Linked DNA regions of Homo sapiens: region 2 is linked to region 1. Evidence: fine-mapped expression QTL. Tissue or cell type: whole blood. Region 1 holds a variant in brackets; the other region holds the start of a gene. All regions are shown on one strand. Distances are from middle to middle.

Region 1 (5,239 bases):
CACTTCCCTTGGGGGAAGTGGGGACATTCACTTGTGCAGGGGTGGAATTATTTGGAAGCTTTTGAGAGGTTTCTGTTAAGACTGGAAGAATTGGAAATTATAGGTAGATCTCATCTCAACAAAGAGTATTCTCGGCTGGGCGCGGTGGCTCACGCCTGTAATCCCAACACTTTGGGAGGCTGAGGCGGGCAGATTACGAGGTCAAGAGATCAAGACCATCCTGGCCAACATGGTGAAACCCAGTCTCCACTAAAAATGCAAAAATTAGCTGGGTGCAGTGGCGCGCACCTGTAATCTCAGCTACTCAGGAGGCTGAGGCAGGAGAATCGCTTGAACCTGGGAGTTGGAGGTTGCAGTGAGCCAAGATTGCTGCTGCACTCCAGCCTGGTGACAGAGTGAGACTGCGCCTCAAAAAAAAAAAAAAAAAAGTATTCTCTTCTAGAGAGCTATGTCCTTTGTTGGCTGTTCTTGTTTGTTATCAGTTTGCAAGTGTATGTAACCATCATAGAAAAATTTAGAAAATTCCAGTAAGAAATCTTAGGCTGGGCACAGTGGCTCACGCCTGTAATCCCAGCACTTTGGGAGGCCGAGGTGGGCAGATCCCGAGGTCAGGAGATTGAGATCATCCTGGCTTAACGGTGAAACCCCGTCTCTACTAAAAATAAAAAACAATTAACCAGGCATGGTGGCTCATGCCTGTAGTCCCAGCTACTCAGGAGGCTGAGGCAGTAGAATTGCTTGAACCTGGGAGGTGGAGGTGGTGGTGAGCCAAGATCATGCCACTGCACTCCAGCCTGGGTGACGGAGCGAGACTACGTCTCAAAAAAAAACAGAAAAAGAAATCTTACCACACAGAGGTGAATATCACAAATTTTAAAAAAATTGATTAGTATGCATTTTATTTTATGTATTAATATTTAAAACCATTATTCTGAGGAGATTGATGGGGTTCACCAGACAGCCCAAGAGTCTAAGGTACAGAAAAGACTGAGACCATTATAAAGAGAGCCTGCCTAACTTAGGATACAAGTGGTCTACCTGAGGAGAATGTTAGCAAAAAGAGGCAACACCTTTTCCAGTTGTTGTGGGATAGGGACATGGTGCGGGAAGGAGGTAGGAAGCAGCAGAGATGGGTAAAAGGGGCCAGAGGCCAGGGAGTACATGGTGGCATGGGGGTGGGGGCATGTAGTATGGTCCAAGGTCAACATTTTAAAAAATAAGTTGAGATAGGGCCGGGCGCGGTGGCTCGCGCCTGTAATCCCAGCACTTTGGGAGGCCGAGGCGGGCGGATCACGAGGTCAGGAGATCGAGACCATCCTGGCTAACACGGTGAAACCCCGTCTCTACTAAAAATGCAAAAAATTAGCCGGGCGTGGTGGTGGGCGCCTGTAGTCCCAGCTGCTCGGGAGGCTGAGGCAGGAGAATGGCGTGAACCCGGGAGGCGGAGCTTGCAGTGAGCCGAGATCGTGCCACTGCACTCCAGCCTGGGCGACAGAGCCAGACTCCGACTCAAAAAAAAAAAAAAAAAAAAAAAAAAAAATAAGTTGAGATAGAAATGATGGTTCTCTTTCAAACAAAACAAACAAAAAAAGCTTTGAGGCAGACAGGACTGAGGCCAGAATAGAACCAAGAGGGAATTACTCCTGTGAGAGGGGAATATTCCAAAGATGTTCCGATCAGCTAAAGGCAGAGTTTTTAAAAGCAGAGCATCTGCTGGCTTGAGTGAATATCAATAACTGGTTGAATAACTGGTCTGGTTGAGTGAATTTCCGTAATCATGTGACTGGAGGGGTTTGCCTGGAGGGTTGGAGAGAGCAGATGCCAGCAACCATGGAGGGGAGAGTGGGGACCTTGGGATGTGCACTCCTCCGGGGGTTCACCACCATCATGACGGCTTTGAGTTCTGTTCTTGGGCTTGGGGATCAAAGGGAAGACTTTGCATTAGCAAAGTTTGTTTTTTTTTTAAATGAGAATATTTAGTGCTGGTAGAGATCTAGGGAAATGGGCATTTTTCTGGAATATATTTTCTGGTTGAATGTTAAAGACCTTTAAAATGTTTGTGGTGGGCCAGGCGCGGTAGCTCATGCCTGTAATCCCAGCACTTTGGGAGGCTGAGGCGGGCGGATCACCTGAGGTCAGGAGTTCGAGACCAGCCTGGCCAACATGGTGAAACCCCATCTCTACTAAAAATACAAAAATTAGCCAAGTGTGATGGCTAATCCCAGCTACTCGGGAGGCTGAGGCAGGAGAATCGCTTGAACCTGGGAGGCGGAGGTTGCGGTGAACTGAGATTGTGCCACTGCGTTCCAGCCTGGGCAATAGAGCAAGACTCTGTCTCTAAATAAATAAATAGATAGATAGATAAAAATAAAATGTTTATGCCCTTTGAAATAGTAATTTCATTTCTAGGAATTTGGCTTAGGGAAATAATCCAAGATAAGGCTTTGTGCATAAAGATGTTCATTATAATTTTTTATAGTGAAAAACCAGAAATAATTAAATGCTCAAAACAGGAGGATGTAAATTCTGGTACATCTTACATCATGGAAAATTCTTTGGATATTGAAAATATCTACAAGGAATTTTTAATATTAGAGGAAATGCTTACGGTAAATGTTGCATAGATTCAAAATTATGTAGAGAAAATATTTCAAGTATGTAAAATATGTAGGAAAAGGACTGGAAGGAAATATGCCAAAATGTTTTAAAATGGCTTCCTCTTGATCGTGAAGTTATGGGTAATTTATTTTCTGTTTTTTTTTTACTTTTTAGTAAACAAAATTTCCACAGAGTAGCTTCACCCAGGCTGGAGTGTAATGGCGTGATCTCGGCTCACTGCAACCTCCGCCTCCCAGATTGAAGCAGTTCTCCTGCCTCAGCCTCCCAAGTAGCTGGGACTACAGGCGGCCACCACAATGCCTGGCTAATTTTTGTATTTTTAGTAGAGACGGGGTTTCACCATGTTGGCCAGGCTGGTCTCAAACTCCTTACCTCAAGTGATTGGCCCACTTCGGCCTCCCAAAGTGCTGGGATTACAGGCATGAGCCACTGCGCCCAGCCCAGAGTAGTTATTAC[TA/T]AAAAAAAAAGTTATTTCATAACACAATAATACACAAATATTTTATAAGATACATAAATATAATGAGAGAAAAGTGAAAGGCTTCCCTCCCAAAGGGTAACCACTGTGAACAGTTTCCCACTTCTCTAAAATGTTTATGTGTACATGTACATATACAAATATATTGTTGTGTTTTTTCTTTTACCTAAGTGGGATCATACTGTAAATATTGTTCTGCAACTGCCTTTTTTATCCTTTCCAAAATGTCTTCTTTATCTTCATATACTGATACATGTAGACCGGCTTCGCTTGTTTCAAGTGCTGCCTTGCATCTCATGATGCAGATAATCCATGGTTTATCTCACCATTCCCATATTGCCAGACGCTTTTCTAGTATCCTTTCTCCACTATTTGAAGCAATGATGCAGTGAATACCTTTGTACACACAGTAGTGTGACTATTTCCCTAGGATAGAGAGTTAGAAGCAGAGTTGCTGGATGAAAGACCATGTGCATTTCTTATTTTGATAGATATGGTATGTATTTGTTAAGATGATATAAACTTGTCTACTGTAACCAAGACCTCAAAATAACAGTGGCTTAAAACAAGAGAGTTGTTTATTTCCCTTCAACTAACAGTCTAAGTGTAAGCAGTCCAGGGCTAACATTATGGTTTTGGAGTGTTAGGGACTCTGATTTGTCTTATTACTCTGCCATCTTCAACACATGCTTTAACTTTATGGTCTAAGATGATCACTTCTACTCCTCCATTCATATCCATTTTCTAAGAGGGAGAGAAGTTTAGAGCAAAACCTAGAAGTTACACCTATCATTTTTGTTCACATCCAGAATTGGCCAGAACCTAATCGTATTGGCCACACATAGCAGTGATGTGCATTGGGCAGTTTTGTGCCCAGCTACACTTCTAGTACTAAAGGAAGAAATCTCATAAAGGATGCACAAGACCTTTACACTGAGAACTGCAGAATGCTGCTGGAGTATTCGGATCAGCTAGGAGCAGGGTTTGTAAGTCATCATAGTGTGAGTGGCCACTGGCATTAGTGCGTTAGCTATTCACATTGCTAGTCTGTTTTCCCATTTGGCTGTTTGCCTTCTTTCTTACTGATTTGTAGGCAGTCCTTATGGATTACATATATTAACCTTTTATCTTCTATAGATGTTATAAATATTTTGTCCGTTTCTTTTTTTTTTTTTTTTTTTTTTTTTTTTTTTTTTTGAGACAGAGTCTCACTCAGTCGCCAGGCTGGAGTGCAGTGGCGCGATCTGGGCTCCCTGCAACCTCCGCCTCCCAGGTTCAAATGATTTTCCTGCCTCAGCCTCCCAAGTAGCTGTGACTACAGGCGTGTGCTACCTTGCCTGGCTAATTGTTTGTATTTTTAGTAGAGACAGGTTTCACTGTGTTAGCCAGGATGGTTTCGATCTCCTGACCTCGCGATCCATCCGCCTCAGCCTCCCAAAGTGTGGGATTACAGGCGTGAGCCACCGCGCCTGGCCTATATTTTAACTTTGTCAAAGGATCACTTGAGCCCAGGAGTTCAAGGCTGCAGCAAGCTGTGATTGCGTCACTGCACTCCAGCTTGGGTGACAGAGCGAGATCCTGTCTCAAAAAAAAGTCATAATTATTGTTACAACTATTTAAAGAAATATGCATGTGAAGAAAAGACTGAAAATGAATACTTTAAGATTAAGAGAGGTATATTTGGATAAGTGATTATTTTTCTCTCTTAAAAATCTTTATTGTTGTCATTCCCTATTTATGTTTTTTATGTTTTTAAAGAGACAGGTGTTAGTGGACTAGAGAATCAGCAGAGGCTTTCAAGACCTCCTGAGGTGAACTAGGACTGAAAGCTGTGTACTGTTTGGGAGGAAGGAGGCTGGACTCTTTGAGATGTGTGAGCCAGGAGGAAGGGGCCCCATTCTAGGCCTTGGTCTCTAAGAATGGGTTCACTTGTCTGATGGTCTACGGTCTGGTATGATATAAAAGTCCTTTCTTGCATTCCAGGGTCTCCTCATGCTGCTACAGAACCTACCTACAATACACTGGGGCAACGAAGAAATTGGGCTGCTTCTCGCCGAGGCATACAGACTCAAGTACATGTTTGCCGATGCCCCAAATCACTACCGCCGATAGGTGCTGTCTCCTCCGGGGACCCAGACTGCCTTC
Region 2 (5,000 bases), 71 kb before region 1:
AATACAAAAAATTAGCTGGCCATGGTGGTATGTGCCTGTTAGTCCCAGCTACTCAGGAGGCTGATGTGGGAGGATTGCTTGAGCCCAGGAGATGGAGGTTGTAGTGTGCTGAGATCATGTCACTGGACTCCAGCTTGGGTGACAGGGCAAGACCTGGTCTCAAAAAAAAAAAAAAAGGTCTCTCTGGTTGGTATATGGGGAATGGACTCTAAGGGGCTAAGAGTGGAAGCAGGGAGCCGAATAGCAGGCTGCTGTAAGCAGGTGTGTGGTTGGTGAAGATTAGGGTGACCAAGTGGTAGTGGTGAAAAAGGTTCCAACAATCTCAATTTCCCTATTTAAAAAGTCATCACAAGGTAACTGATGTGAATTTTTAAAAAATCTTGGAGGGGAAACTGATATAGAAAACAAACTGTAGAAATAACAGGGCTTTTCTGGGTTGAGCACTGTTAACTACACCCCCTGGGAATCAGTGTCATTTAACATTTCATAGAAGATTAAGAAAAAGGAGTATTTTGAGATATGTCTAGATACACAAATCATACTTTGCTTTCCACATAGTAAAATGTCAAATCAATAGGGAGCAGCTTCTGGAACATCTCTAAAGCCATGTGCATAAGCTGGAAAGTGGCAGGTATCTTGTCACATGGATGAGTGTATGGCAGCTCACATAGGGAAAGACAATTCAGAGGATACCTTTAAGACAATGAACTCTGAACTGCTGGTTGCCACCAAGGTAAGGAATCTAGAAGTTGTTTTAGATTACTCTTTCAAGACATCAACTCTTCTAAAGTCCAAACAGCCAGCAAAAGGTCTGGCTGTCCAGAATAAAGACAAAACATCAGCCTTAACAAAGCCTCAGTACATCCCTCTTTGGGCTTAGTGTGCAGTGCTGGTCACTGCATCCTAAGAAAAAGAAGCGCCAGAGAAAGGCAAGTAAAATAATTAAAAGAATAGAGGGGCTTTTTTTCTCTGGGTTAAATGCCCATAAAGAAGATAAGATGCTTTTATAGCATGAAAGACTCAGAGGAAGTAAAAATAGCCCTTGTCATCCAATCCTATAATTCTTAAATTAGGGGACAAAAGAAGCTTGAAAATGGGAGTAATGAAGAAACCGTCGTTGGAGGACATATAAAAGAAGGTCCTTCTTTGGCTGGGGCCAGGGGTCAGGTCTTTAAGTATTCTCCAATATGTGGAAGTACATGTGGTAGCTGTAAATGGAGGGTGGGGGTGGGGGTGGGGGACACGCAGCCCACCTCAACAGTCCTTCGAAGGGACAAAAACCACTCTGGACTGGTGCCCGCCTTCCCTCTTTCCCCAAATCACCACGGAATACAACCACAGAAACTCAAAACCAGCAAAAAACGCTGACAAGACATTCAAAGGATTCAAAATGCTAATACTAAATCTCATTGTCTGGGAAAATTAGATTGAAAATAAATTCAAGGGTGCAAGATTTATAATAGATTAACAAGGGAAATTAAGGATGTTGGTGGGGCCGGGAGGAGATACATCCTTAACTTTGTGATTCACACGATGGAGCAATACTGTGTCCTTCAAAGAAATGGTATTTGGTAATCTGAGTTGGACAGCTATCATAAACCATTTCCTATATACACTGTTAGCATAGTCAGAAAGTGAGAGTTATGGATTGACATAGGGATTAGATCATTTGAATTTTTAACCCACAGCACAAGTCCTTCAATCGTTTTCAATAAACAGAGGGAGAGGGAGACTCTGATGAACCGTTGCTCACGTGTTGAACAGTTAGCAATCCCGGGCTATCGGGTCCCTGCTGACCTTCCTTCAGAAAAACGAATGGACATGTAAACGGAATGAGGAAAGGAGGGTAATAACCAGAGTGTCATTGAATTGAGAGATGTTAAAAATGGGCCACAACCAACACATGGGCCCTTACTTTTAGGTGAAAGATTCCTATATATAAATACATAGTATGTTCTCTCTTGCCAAGAAATATTAGACTAAGGAACTTCATTCCTCACGAAGAAGATAATCCCCTCTTCCTTCCCATAGGTCCCTTACCTTACCTGCTTCTTCCCTCTCGCGGGTAGGAACTTTGAGCCCCGCCTCTCGGCTCGTCCAAGCTCCGCCTTCCCCGTCCACCTGTGTGCCCAGCCCCTGACGTTACCGGTCGGCTTCAGCGGCCTGCAGGATTCCGGCTCCCAATTGGTCGGCCCGTCCACGGCTTGCGCAGCTCACCAATGGCAGCGGTGCTGGGTGGAGGGGTGCCCACATCCAAGATGGCGTCCCCAGGAGCTGGGAGCGGGTGACCGGCGGCGGGGAAGCGGCCTGGGTTGGCCCTCAGATTGCGGGGTCTGGGGGCATCTCGCCGGGCAAACCCTTGGCCCGCCTACAAGGACTTCCCCCGGCCAGAGCAATGGCCGCTGAGAACAGCAAGCAGTTTTGGAAGAGGAGCGCTAAGCTGCCGGGGAGGTGAGCCCAGGACGCTGAGAGGGATAGGGGATTGGACCAAACCCTTCCAGATCCTAATCCCTGAATCCCGCGGGCCTGGGGCGCCACAGAGGCCAGAAGACTGGTTTGGGGAAGCTGGGACTGCCTGGTGGCGGCAGGGCAGCTGTCAGGCAGCGAAGCGAACAGCGAGCTTTGGGGACGGCTGGATGTGGGTGTAGACCGGGGTCTGGGGGCGGAGGTTTCAGGAGGGGTGACCTCAGCGGGAAGGTGGCCGAAGATTGGGCGTAAAGGGGAGTGGAGTTGGGTGAATAGTCAGTGTCGGCCCTGGTCTCGGAAGTTCCTCCCCAGAGCTGCTTCCCACTCTAATTAGGACTCCCTCTCAGGGGTCTCCACCACGCACAGGTGGTTGGTCGCTCGAGGATGGCCCCTTCCCTTGATCCCTGAGGTCGGCACTTACCCGAAGGATTCCGGTGGGAGTTTGGGGCCGCCTGCCGAGAGGGTTAGGCAGGAAAAGTGAGGACGATTCTCAACCCTGACCTTACTTTATCTTGAGTTGGCCCTTTCCCACTAGGAATTATTACAAGACGACCACAGAATCAGGGTTATTCCTTTGGCATTTTCTAAGGATTTGTCCAACCCCAAGTGACTTCTTCCTCCCCTGCATTGTAATGCACTTCTTGTGCAAATGCACTAAATTCGTTCATTCTTCAGTTGTTTAACTGGAGAGCAGACCCCCTAAGACTACCCCCACCCTCTTTTCGGTGTATGTTGAGACTTTTGGCAAATTATCCATCCATCAATCTACTGTTGGTTTACTGTTTCAGTTTATTTTGGGCAAAGTCCTGAGAAGTATAAGGAAGAGTGTGTATTTCAGTCGTAAATTTAAGATTTCTGCCAGCTACAGTCTACTTGGTGATGAAATTCATGTTTGGTTGTGTCCCCTGTGCTACCTTTTCTAATGGATTCAGGTTTTTTCCTTCTGGGATAATCTTTTGAACTCGTGACTTTTTTTTTTTAAGCGAGAGAGAGATGAGGGTCAGTAGTGGCTAGGTAAGAGCCTTAATTTTTTTTTTTTTTTTAAATGAAATAGAGACAAGGTCTGACTGTGTTGCCAGGGCTGGTCTCTGACTCCTGGCCTCAAGTGATCCTCTTGCCTTGGCCTCCCAAAGTGTTGGGATTACAGGCGTTAGCCACCATGCCCCACCAAGAGTCTTATTTTATTAAGGATTCTAGTAGACATATGGAGAATAGGGTGGAAATCAGCTTTTAGTAATACTTATTAAAGTAATAGAAAGGAATGCAAAGATAACTTCAGATTAAAGTGCTGTGGACTCAACAGTGTTAATATTACTGTTAAAGATGTTCTGTGTTTTTAGGTAAGCACACTTCCTGCCAACTGATTCCTTTTCCTTCCTGGTCTAGTGAGCTCTCTAGTTGTGCTAACTGCTATTCTCTGGGGTTTTCCGTAGTGAGATCATTAAATTTTGACATCCTAAGATTATAATCATAATCAATAGGAAGACTGTTGTATCAGGAAGCAGTGTAAGAGATGTGGGACGTGGCATGGGCTTCTGTGCCTTCTGACTGCTGGTTGCTATTAACAATCTTTTTTTCCTATATTTCCTGTATTTGGCTATAAGAACAGTCAACTTTTTTAAAGCACTACTTTTCTGAGATAGGAAGAGAAGTCTTTTCAGTTTCTTCAAGTTTCTGGATTCCTTTTTCATTTTGAAGAATATAGAGAAATAGAGAACTTTCGAGTTCAGAAAGACTTGGGTTACTATTTGGGCTCTGTTGTGTGTGTGACCAAGACAAATAATCTTTCTAGGCCTCAATTTCCTTACCTATGAAATGAGAAATAAAAATACTTTCCTCAGAGTTACTGTGGGGACTAAGTGAAATACCCTATTTGTAAAGAGCCTAGGACAGTGTTTATTTAGCACATTATAGTTGCTCAAAAAAACAGTAGTTATTAACATTGCTGTCATTATTACAGCAAGTAAACATTTAAAATAATGTTACTCAGATCCTTACCCCAGCTCATTGTCTTCGTTGTTTAAGGTATTCAAATATTGTCACAATTCATAATAGTTTTTAGTACCTTACTTGGTAAAGAGAAATACTGTTCAGCTGTGTGCTTTTAGCAGTGAAGCCCACAAGCCTCTGGTCATAGGAGAAAACTAAGGTTCTTTTAGATAGAAAGGTACTTTGGTTTAAAGAAAATGTTAGGGCATTTTCTCAAGAATAGAACTTTTGCATCTGTACTCTTTCGGTCTTAGAGAAGAAAAACTTTCTCCTGGGTGGGGAAATGACACAAATGACTCTACTGGATGCATGCAAACTTGGAAATGAAACTAGTTTACTCTTCTTTGCAAATTGAAAGGTGAAAAATAAAAGCGATGACAGGGTTCTTTCCATTTGTCTGATCATGATCCAACAATCTTAGTGACAACAAATAGAAATTTTATTAAATAAAAGAAGTTGCAAATGAATGAAACATTCTTTTTAAAAATAACAGCTTTATTGAGATATAATTCACATACCATAAAATTCACTCTTTTAAAGTGTAC

The links. PIP is the estimated chance that this variant, and not a neighbour inherited with it, causes the effect.
Region 2: TBC1D22B starts here. The variant in region 1 is fine-mapped to the expression of TBC1D22B in whole blood (INTERVAL, PIP above 0.99).

The regions. Positions count from the first base shown.
Region 1 is chr6:37,325,967-37,331,205 of GRCh38, forward strand. TBC1D22B (TBC1 domain family member 22B) reads left to right here. Exons shown (of 13, transcript NM_017772.4): 13 at 5,078-5,239. The coding sequence ends at 5,206. Among named protein-coding and RNA genes, the nearest start is that of RNF8, 25 kb to the right of the region's middle. The variant TA/T (reference allele first, on the strand shown) is at 3,076.
Region 2 is chr6:37,255,523-37,260,522 of GRCh38, forward strand. It overlaps TBC1D22B (TBC1 domain family member 22B), which reads left to right and starts at 2,250. Exons shown (of 13, transcript NM_017772.4): 1 at 2,250-2,451. The coding sequence starts at 2,396. It overlaps TMEM217B (transmembrane protein 217B), which reads right to left and starts at 2,622. Exons shown (of 2, transcript NM_001395378.1): 1 at 2,046-2,622. TMEM217 (transmembrane protein 217) reads right to left here and starts at 2,622. Exons shown (of 3, transcript NM_001286401.2): 1 at 2,046-2,622. RefSeq lists a silencer at 2,081-2,210 and enhancers at 2,311-2,370, 2,471-2,530, 2,617-3,252.